Regions from separate parts of the Homo sapiens genome. Here all the other regions are reported to be linked to region 1. The links are microRNA targets in miRTarBase. Many come from high-throughput screens and were not tested one by one. Region 1 holds a microRNA gene; each other region holds the end of a gene's coding sequence.
Evidence for each region. The annotated mature microRNA hsa-miR-204-5p reads UUCCCUUUGUCAUCCUAUGCCU and lies in region 1 at 1,351-1,372, shown strand. An mRNA with a match to its seed (bases 2 to 7 or 8) in the 3' UTR can be bound and repressed. Matches are read on the target gene's strand: a 7mer-m8 pairs with bases 2 to 8, a 7mer-A1 pairs with bases 2 to 7 and ends in A, and an 8mer does both.

Region 1 (3,260 bases):
TGCAGAAGGGCTGGATGATGCTCTACATAGGTTTCACTGTGCAACTTGAGTTGCCATCACGTATATAAATTTATGTAAATTGGGTAATCCATCTGCTTTAATAAAATGTGTATGCAACCACAGGGTGTAGAAATTTCAAAGATTTTATTTTTTGACAGGATGCCTGCCGTTTTTCTCTCTTGACTCCCGCTTGTTTTATTCATTTTGGGGTAGTTGCCAGTTAGACTCAGTTGGTAAGTATAATTAATGGAAAATGTGAATTTCTTCTTAAACTCCAAGAAATTAACCACAGAAGTCTTCATTTCCTTTATAATTTCCTAACAGTATCACTCCCTATGACTGTTGTTTTATCTCTATCTCTTCTGACATTCAACCACATCAGAAATTAGTTACTCCCTATTATTTATCATCCTAAAGATACCATATAGGACAGCTTGACGGCACTATTGGGATACTACTAGGAGGGAATGAGCATTTATTTAGGTTCCAAGCACCATGCTAGGCATTTTCATATATACTATCTCTTTTAATACTCACAAAAACCCTTCAAGATAGGGATTATTTTCTTCCTTTTATACAGTTGATGAAATGGCACCTCCAAGAGGTTAAGCCTTTGCCTTAAATCCAATTAGTGGCACAGCTGGGTGCAAACCTAGGCTGACATAATTCCAAAATACTTTCTCCTTTCATCCTACACATGGAAGCATTATCTCATTTTTTTAAAAAGGCTCCCCTAAAGTTTGGTTACCTTGGAGAGTTTGAGGGTCATTATTCCATTCAGCAACTATTTGAGCACCAACTCTGTGCCAAATATAGGTTGAGCATTGATTCAGTTGGAATGAGTCATCAAGCAAAACTTTGGGAAGAAGATGGTGGTTAGTTGCAAGATGGTGGAGAAACAATATTAGGAAGAAATACAACAGGGTGCTGGAGAGGAGCGTGGGGATGGAGGCAAGCAGAGGACCTCCTGATCATGTACCCATAGAACAGGGCGATGGAGAGGAGGGTGGGGTTGGAGGCAAGAAGAGGACCTCCTGATCGTGTATCCATAGGACAGGGTGATGGAGAGGAGGGTGGGGTTGGAGGCAAGCAGAGGGCCTCCTGATCATTTACCCACAGGACAGGGTGATGGAGAGGAGGGTGAGGGTGGAGGCAAGCAGAGGACCTCCTGATCATGTACCCATAGGACAGGGTGATGGAGAGGAGGGTGGGGGTGGAGGCAAGCAGAGGACCTCCTGATCATGTACCCATAGGACAGGGTGATGGAAAGGAGGGTGGGGGTGGAGGCAAGCAGAGGACTTCCTGATCGCGTACCCATGGCTACAGTCTTTCTTCATGTGACTCGTGGACTTCCCTTTGTCATCCTATGCCTGAGAATATATGAAGGAGGCTGGGAAGGCAAAGGGACGTTCAATTGTCATCACTGGCATCTTTTTTGATCATTGCACCATCATCAAATGCATTGGGATAACCATGACATGAAATTTTCCATCATTGGGCCCATAACTGTCCCATAAGAGAGATGAAAAACACTGTATGTTAAAGGTCATAGTAGAACTTCATCCAAGCAGCTCTGGAATTAGGAAGGAGTGAAATATACTCTCAAAGACTAATAGTTCTGGGTCCAAACCATGTGACTTGAAAAGGAAGCAAAGATTCCCCTGGACAGGTTACATATACTGTCATGCATTGCTTAACGATGGGGTTACTATATCCTCAGAAATGAATCATTAGGTGATTTTGTCATGAACATCATAGAGTGTACTTATACAAACCTAGAAGGTATAACCTACTACACACCTAGGCTATATAGTATAGCCTATTGCTTGTAGGCTACAAACCTGTATAGCATGTTACTATGTGGTAGTGAATACTGTAGGCAACTGTAACACGATGGTAAGTATTTGTGTATCTAAACATAGAAAAGACACAATAAAAACATAGTATAAAAGATACAAATAGTACACCTTAATAGGGCACTTACCATGAATGGTGCTTGCAGGACTGGAAGTTGCTCTGGGTGAGTCACTGAGTGAGTGCTAGAATATTTTTGTATACTACTGTAAACTTTATAAACACTGTATAATTAGGCTATACTAAATTTATTTTTTAAATTTTATTTCTTCAAAACTAAATTAACCTTAGCTGACTGTAACTTTTTTACTTTGTAAACTTTTTAACGTTTTAAAACTTTTAGACTATTTTGCAATAATACTTAGCTTAAAACATAAGCACATTATGCAGCTATACAAAAATATTTTCTTCATTTGCTTATTCTATGAGCTTTTTTCTGTCTTTAAAATTTTTTATCTTTGTATTTTTTAAACTTTTTTCTTAAAAATGAAGACACAAACACACTCATTAAACTAGGCCTGCACAGGGTCAGAATCATCAAGATGTCACTAGGTGATAGGACTTTTTCAGCTCTATTACTACCTTATGGGACCACCATTGTATTTGTGGTCTGTCATTGACCAAAGTGTCATTATGCAACACATGACTGTATATCAAGAACATCTTATTTCCTTCTGTGGGTGCTACAATCTGTTCAGCCCAATCATGCAAACTTTCTACTGCCTCAAACAGTCAAGGGAAAGGCCTTCCAAAACACAAATACCAAATTGATGATCAGTTCACTTTAGACTGTAATGACATCATTTTTCAGGTGCTGTCAAGTAAACATGTTTAAAGCTTTCTCCGCCTTTTAGAGGGTCTTCCCTCTAAAGAATAATTTGTGAGGAATAAACAACACAATCTATATCCCTGCTTTTTCATTATATGAAACGACTTGACACAGTTGGCTGTGTAACTGAAATATTTGTCATGCTTGTTAATGAAAAGTTACTTTGTCAATAAAGGTAATAATGAAGCCAAAAAAATAACTTTGAGGGAACAGAGCAAATTTTAGCGAAACTGGTTTCTTGGTATTGACTTGTCATGTTTATCTCACCCATTTTCCTATTCAAGCTAAAGACCTCCCTTTTTTCAGCAAAGAGACTTTTCTACATTGGAATTAGTTGTTCAGGGACTGGGATAGTTCTTGTAAACAAGTAGGTCCCAACAGGAGAGCTGTCCACCATTCTAAGACTTCTTAGACACTTTTACATTCAGGGAAGAATTTTGAGCTCCCTTTTCAGATTAGAAAGATTTGGGTTGCCAATGTTTGACTGGCATTTTGGTCTCAAAGTCAGCAATGTTTACTGTTGTTGGTCAGATACAATAGGTTCCTAGCATAACATAGGAACCTGTTATCTTGATGG
Region 2 (3,260 bases), not on the chromosome of region 1:
AATTAAGGGAAACAACTATTTCAAAAGTCAGCCAAGTCCGGGTAAGTGTCTTTGTATAGAGATAAAATAATGAGGCAAATTCCTAGTGTGATTTAGAAATAGTATAGTATGCTGTGCTTTGTCTTTAGCAATACCCACCACCGATAAATCCATATTTGAGATAGTTTTTGTTAGAATTAGTAGGAATAGAAAAAACAAACAAGAAAAGTTCTTAATGAGGGAAAGATAAGTAACAACACCTGAAGCTTTGGTTACCCTAACTCTCATACGCTGCTATAATGAATTGAAGTGGGAGAAAATTTTTTAATATTTCTTGTATTGCACTCCAGGATGTTATCGGCTTCAATATGGCTGGTCTTGATTATCTCAAGAGGGAATGCGAGGCAAAAAGTGAAGTTATGTTTTTTGCTGATGCTACTAGCCACTTGGAAGAGAAGAAGAGGAAGAGGAAAAAGAGGGAGAAGTTGATTCTAACGTTGACTTAGAACTGAAATGTGGTATCTTTTTTTTTTTCAACTTTTTCCTTTAAAGGACTCCTAAACTAAGCACAGAAGAGTTGGCGTCATCTTAAAAATACCAAATAACAGAAGATCGCATTGCAGATGATATCAGGATGTGGTTTCCAGCTTTGCCTGAGGGAATTCCAACATGAGATTATGGGCTGGCTCCATTTCTTGGACTTAAAATGCATTATTAGTTTAAAAATCTTTCTGTGCTCTCAAAGCTTGAGCCTTGCAGCTCAAGCTTGTTGTTCCCTTTATATTCTAGCAGGGAATAAATAATTGTTTTAATTAGGTATTTGTTTCATTGGAGTTGAAATTAACATTTCAAAAGTTTTTCGTATTTTTTTATGGCAGATGATTTGTCATTTATTTATATTAGGTTTTACTGCCTATTGAGACAACCAGGTGCATAATTGATTGCCCTTTGGCCATAAAAATGCAGTGTCATGGATCTTAGAGCTAAAAAGGACTGTAAAAATTACCCAGAACAGCGTCCTCAGACTTAACCTTCTGCAAGTTATGTCTGTATATAAGAAGATTCTAATTGCTAACTGTTTATACTTTTCTGAATAAAATAGTTGTTTCTAATTAAAAAGTAGCCAAGCTAAGATGCCTGGCTGGGCTTCTGAGGAATTAATACACTCGTGTGTGTGTGTGTGTGTGTGTGTGTGTGTGTGTGTGTATGTGTATGTGTATGTACACATACATATATATAGTTGACACTTGAAAAATGCAGGTGGTAGGGGCACTGACCCACCCCTACGCCCCGCACAGTCAAAAATCTGCATATAACTTTTGATTCCCCAAAGTCTTAAGTACTAGTAGCCTGTTATTGACTGGGAGCCTGACTGATGTATTATATATATTGTATACTGTATTCTTAAAGTAAGCTAGAGAAAAGAAAATGTTACTTAGAAAATCATAAGGAAGAGAAAATATATTTACTGTGTTTATCAATACTATAAGTGTATGTCATCTGTTTATAAAATGAATTGTCTGTCTGGATTGGCAGGCAACCACAGCCGCAGACCTCAATCTGTGGTACTTATCAAGCATCAGCTTTTTCTTGTAATGTCATGACTTTTCTCTGCTTTTTGGGAGCACTGTGATATGCAGTTTACTGGGGCGATGAGTTGTTCATGCACAGGTGATTAGTGTCACAGCATTTTAAGTGCATACGCACAACACTTGAGCTCACTGCATAGCAACAGGAGGTGGCTGTGAAATTATTTCAGTAACATACTGTGTATTACAGTTCATTTTATGCAGCTATGATTTAATACTGCATCTTTACATTATTTTACATTTCTCCCAAAACTGTGAATTGCACCATGTATGATCTGTATTTGTGTGTGTTAATGTTGATAATAGATTTGCGTGTATTTTATGGCAGTAAATGATAAAATAGTCTAGTATCTACATATATTTTGTGCATTCATGATATAACTACTTTTTTCCTAATTTTTTTCATCTGAAACTTTTCTCATTGTTTCAGATCTCCAAAAATTTTTCCAATATATTTATTGAAAATATCTGGGCTGCGTGCAGTGGCTCACGCCTGTAATCCCACCACTGTGGGAGGCCGAGGCAGGCGGATCACAAGGTCAGGAGTTCCAGACCAGCCTGGCCAACATGGTGAAACCTCATCTCTACTAAAAATACAAAAAACTAGCTGGGCGTGGTGGCAGGCGCTTGTAATCCCAGCTACTCAGGAGGCTGAGACAGGAGAATCACTTGAACCCGGCAGGCGGAGATTGCAGTTAGCCAAGACAGTGCCACCAGCATTCCAGCCTGGGCAACACAGTGAGACTCCATCTCCAAAATAATAATAGTAAAAAAAAATCTGTATAACAGTGGAGCCAAGTGGTTAAAACCCATGTTCAACGGATTGTCTACTGTATATCTTCATGGTAAGGATTTGGGGAATGTTCTAGGAAAAGATATTGACAGATACCTCTGGGTCTGGGCTTTTCTTTTGGGGAAGTTTATAAATGACTAAATCATACTTCTTGTTACAGGCCTGTTTAGATGTTCTGTATCTTCTTGAGACAGTTTTGCTTTTTATCTTTTTTGTTGTTGTTAATCCCAAAGATTTAAAACTATGGTTTCTGTCTGAATTTGGTCATTGCAACCAAGTTACTGTGTTGTGGGGCCACCATTTTCTTCTAGGCTCAGATATGCAGTCCTTGTGGCTTGCCGATTTGTGTCCCAAACCACAAGTCTTAATGTTCTTGAGCATAACACAATCACTGAAGTGAGTAAGGGATGCAGTGGTGTTATTTGTTGGGCAGAATAAATAAGTGAATTTTGGCATAGAGTTTCTGAAGGCATAACTATGAAGGCAAGAGAATAGGCAGGCAGGATAATGCATTCTAGGTGCTTTCCAAGGAGTCAGTGTTGTTTAGGCAGCTATTCCTGCCACCAGGGAGAGGAGTTAATTCTTGAAAAAAAATTTAATTTTTTATGAGAACAGAAGTTGATTCAATATCCTTCTTAGAGTTGCTCATCAGAACATAAATGTCACTTTCTAGTAACATTTTTGATGGTTTCCAAACCAAAACAAGTTCCAGGAGGGCATTCGAGATGTATACATCATCAATAATTACTCTTATGTTAAAAGTTGCTGTTTTCCCGTAGCTTTGCCACCATTTATAACTCAAAAGCCTGATAGTGCTAGGGAATGTAAAGATGTTTCTGTCTGCTAAGTGTTATACTAATCGAAGAGAAGGAGAACTTTTATGATAAAGTGACATGTAC
Region 3 (3,260 bases), not on the chromosome of region 1:
AATACATTAAGCTGCTTACCACAACAATGTCCACTGGTAGAAAACTGGCCCTCCTACATCATGGAATTCTTTTTTACAGAATTCAGTTCTGTAGCCTTGGGAGTATACTAGACAGGAAGTTTATTGGCATGAGATTTCAGAATTAAGTGGGAAAACAATTCTTTAAGCATGTACAGAAAAGTGACCTGAAATGTTTTTGGGTGATGAACTTACAGACTTTTTTTTTTTTTTTTTTTTTTGAGGCAGGGTCTTGCTCTGTTGCTCTGCCATCCAGGCTGGAGCAGTGGCACAATCATAGCTCACTATGGCCCTGGCTCAAACCATCCTCCCGTCTCAGCCTCCCAAGTAGCTGGGATCATAGGCACATACCACACTGAGCTATTTTTGGTAGAGATGGGATCTCACTATGTTGCCCAGGCTGGTCTTGAACTCCTGGGCTCAAGTGATCCTCCCACCTAGGCCTCCTAAAGTGCTGGGATTACAGGTGTCAGCTATCGTGTCCAGCCTGAGATATTTCTTATGAGTAATGTGGATGGTACGTGAGTCCATAGAGTAAGGCATTTATTGTAAACCTCCAGGGAGTTTCTGAAAATAGTATCTTCTCTTCAAACCTAGGATGAAGCTGGAGGCAGATTCGTCGCTTTCTCTGGAGAAGGACAGTCATTGCGTAAAAAGGGAAGAAAGCCCTAAGTGAGGACTGTTGGCTGATTGGAAAATAATAAAAGAATCATTTGCAACATCTTGGCTTTTAGTTACTGGCACTGACAGGGACGAGCCTCATCAGAGAATACTCTGTTACTTAAGATTTATTTAGAGTTACCTAAGAATTATTAAGTTTGACTTGGAAGTGGAGCAGCAGGACTTTGTAGTTGTATGCTTGATTTGGGGAAAGACAAAGAGCTGTCCCTGAGGGCCTGTAGATAGCTGCCTCCTCACCTCTTCACGCTTTCAGCTTGAGGGGAGCTCCCACTGCCTCAGCAGGAGCAATTCTGCATCCCTAATTCTGTCAAAACCTATGAAGGTGACTAAATTGTCTAACATGAAGTGTTCTTTCTTTTTCTTCATTTATCCTTTCTTTTCCTACATCAATTGCATAGGTGTCAGTCTTTGGCCTAAAAAAAGGCTTTAAATAGACATGTGTTCTATAAGTAGTGGCTGTCCCACTACTGTGGCTGCAATTTAAGTATTTGACAAAGAATGTTTCTATTTTTATTTTACATATTTTTTTCAAAAACACCACTCAGAAGAACCTGATCTGAATGAGTTTGCACTTTTATTCTCATTTCATATGGACATAACTGGCTCCTTAGTGAACCTGTTCATAGTGAAACAACTCCATGGAGAAGCAAACATGTGAATGTTAGAATGAACAAATGCTAAAGAGATGTTCCTCTCCTTCTTCCCTACTCCCCAACTCCCAATTTTAATTTATTAAATCATCCAAGCTTCTGCTGGCCTGTATTTTTTATCAGTATTTATTTGGTCTTAGATCTTCACTTTCTATAACGTGAGATCTTTTGACATGCTAATCTGATTATTTTAAATTTGTTCCCATGAGCCACTGTGCCTGGCCCCATTGGGAATAATTCTAAGCCAAGAATTTCAAGTAAAAACAGGCAATAACTAAAGCCTAAATCTAAATGTTTGATTAGGTACTAACACAGACTGGTGGTTGGGCCTCTGACCATAACTGAAGGCCTGTTGGCAGGTGCTCCGTGTTCCATCTCACCATTAGAAAAGTGTCCCTCTGGGGCTTCTCCTGGAGAAAGTAGGAAGAAACAAGGCTGCCTGATCCCTAGGTGGCAATGGCTAAGCCCAGCAGGGTCCCCCATGAGCCAGGGCTAACCCTGCTTCCAGACATGGGGGTCCTGCCCTGGTCAGGGCCCCTCCAACACTCCAGAGAGGAGAGAATGGTGGCCCCAGGGTCTATCCACGTCTTCAGTGAAGAGTGTCTATGAGTGTCATGATGTTCAGTACTTGGCCTGTGGCACAAACCATCATCACTGGAAATGGGCGTGGTTTTGGAAGGCATGAGCACTGTGGGGACTTACCTGAGCCTCCACTGACAAAGTCTCAGTTTTACTAGCAGAGGGAGAAACCCTTGGTGGGTAGACAGCCTTCATTTGCAGGATCACATCAGCTAACAGACTGTCACTTTATGCATAATGAAGAATGTTACAGTACCTCTGGCTCTGGGTTTTTGTCTTCACTAAGCAACACCTGCTGTGTATGCAGTGAAACGCCTGGTCCTTTGCTGGAGGCACACTCCCCTGCCTGGACCAGGATGGATTCCATTGCAGAGCCTTTTAATGACACAGTGGGGCCAGTTGGAGCACTGATCCTGGTCATTACTCCTGCACCCTGGCCTGCAGCCTTCCTCTCAGTGTCTTATTTGGGCTTGGTCCTTGAGCCGGCTGCCTCAACAGCAGGACCCCTGGTAAAACTGCAGCTTTCTGATCCACCTCCAGGGAGTCTGTCCCAGTGTCATTCCTGGGACTGGCCCAGCAGTCCCAGGATTTGTATCAGTGGATACTGAGGATTTGTTATCAGTGAAGTGGGAGAACCGCAGCATAGGTACTGCAGGGCGTTTCTGCAAGCCCACCAGCCTCCTCTTTACTTGCCTTTGTTGCCTCTTGTGCATTGCTCCTTTTTATAAACGTCCCAGCCAGGCACTGGCGCTCCGCCTATAATCCTAGCACTTTGGGAGGCCAAAGTGAGAGGGTCGCTTGAGGCCAAACTAGCCTGGGTAACTTAGCAAGACCCCATCTTTACAAAAAAAAAAAAAAAAAATTAAAAATTAGCCTGGTGAGGCTGTGCATGCTTTTGGTCCCAGCTGTTCGGAGTCCAGGAGTTTGAGGTTGCAGTAAGCCATGAACACGCCACGCCACTGCACTAAGCCTGGGTGACACAGCAAGACCCTGTCTCGAAAAATGAATAAGGTAAATGTTACATGTCTCCCGCACCCTTAGAATAGAACTACAGACATCCAAGCCACTCCTACCCCGCTCACCCCTGCTACACACCGCCTCCATACCTTTGACCGGCCTATGGCTGTACTCGGATTGCATTCTCAGCCTCCACTTCAAGCCTGCGTTCCCTGGGGAGGTCATTCAACCCTAGATCCACCATATGTCATGCCCAACCAATCTCAGTTACTTTGCGAGTTCACCTCCATCCTGAGTGGACGCTCAAGCAAGACTGCTGGAGCTGCAGATCTGGGAGGTTCGCTGCACCACCTTGATGCTCAGTATGTACTTTTG

Region 2: miRTarBase lists WDR3 as a target of hsa-miR-204-5p. The part of its 3' UTR that is shown has no 7-base or 8-base seed match.
Region 3: miRTarBase lists UFD1 as a target of hsa-miR-204-5p. The part of its 3' UTR that is shown has no 7-base or 8-base seed match.

The regions. Positions count from the first base shown.
Region 1 is chr9:70,808,143-70,811,402 of GRCh38, reverse strand. It overlaps MIR204 (microRNA 204), which reads left to right and starts at 1,319; the gene lies at 1,319-1,428. All of the region lies in intron 6 of TRPM3 (transient receptor potential cation channel subfamily M member 3), which reads left to right.
Region 2 is chr1:117,958,963-117,962,222 of GRCh38, forward strand. WDR3 (WD repeat domain 3) reads left to right here. Exons shown (of 27, transcript NM_006784.3): 26 at 1-41; 27 at 330-3,260. The coding sequence ends at 485. The region is part of intron 48 of SPAG17 (sperm associated antigen 17); the gene reads right to left. Among named protein-coding and RNA genes, the nearest start is that of WDR3, 31 kb to the left of the region's middle.
Region 3 is chr22:19,448,100-19,451,359 of GRCh38, reverse strand. It overlaps UFD1 (ubiquitin recognition factor in ER associated degradation 1), which reads left to right. Exons shown (of 12, transcript NM_005659.7): 12 at 616-1,449. The coding sequence ends at 690. UFD1-AS1 (UFD1 antisense RNA 1) reads right to left here. Exons shown (of 2, transcript NR_186687.1): 1 at 3,035-3,260. Among named protein-coding and RNA genes, the nearest start is that of C22orf39, 2.0 kb to the right of the region's middle.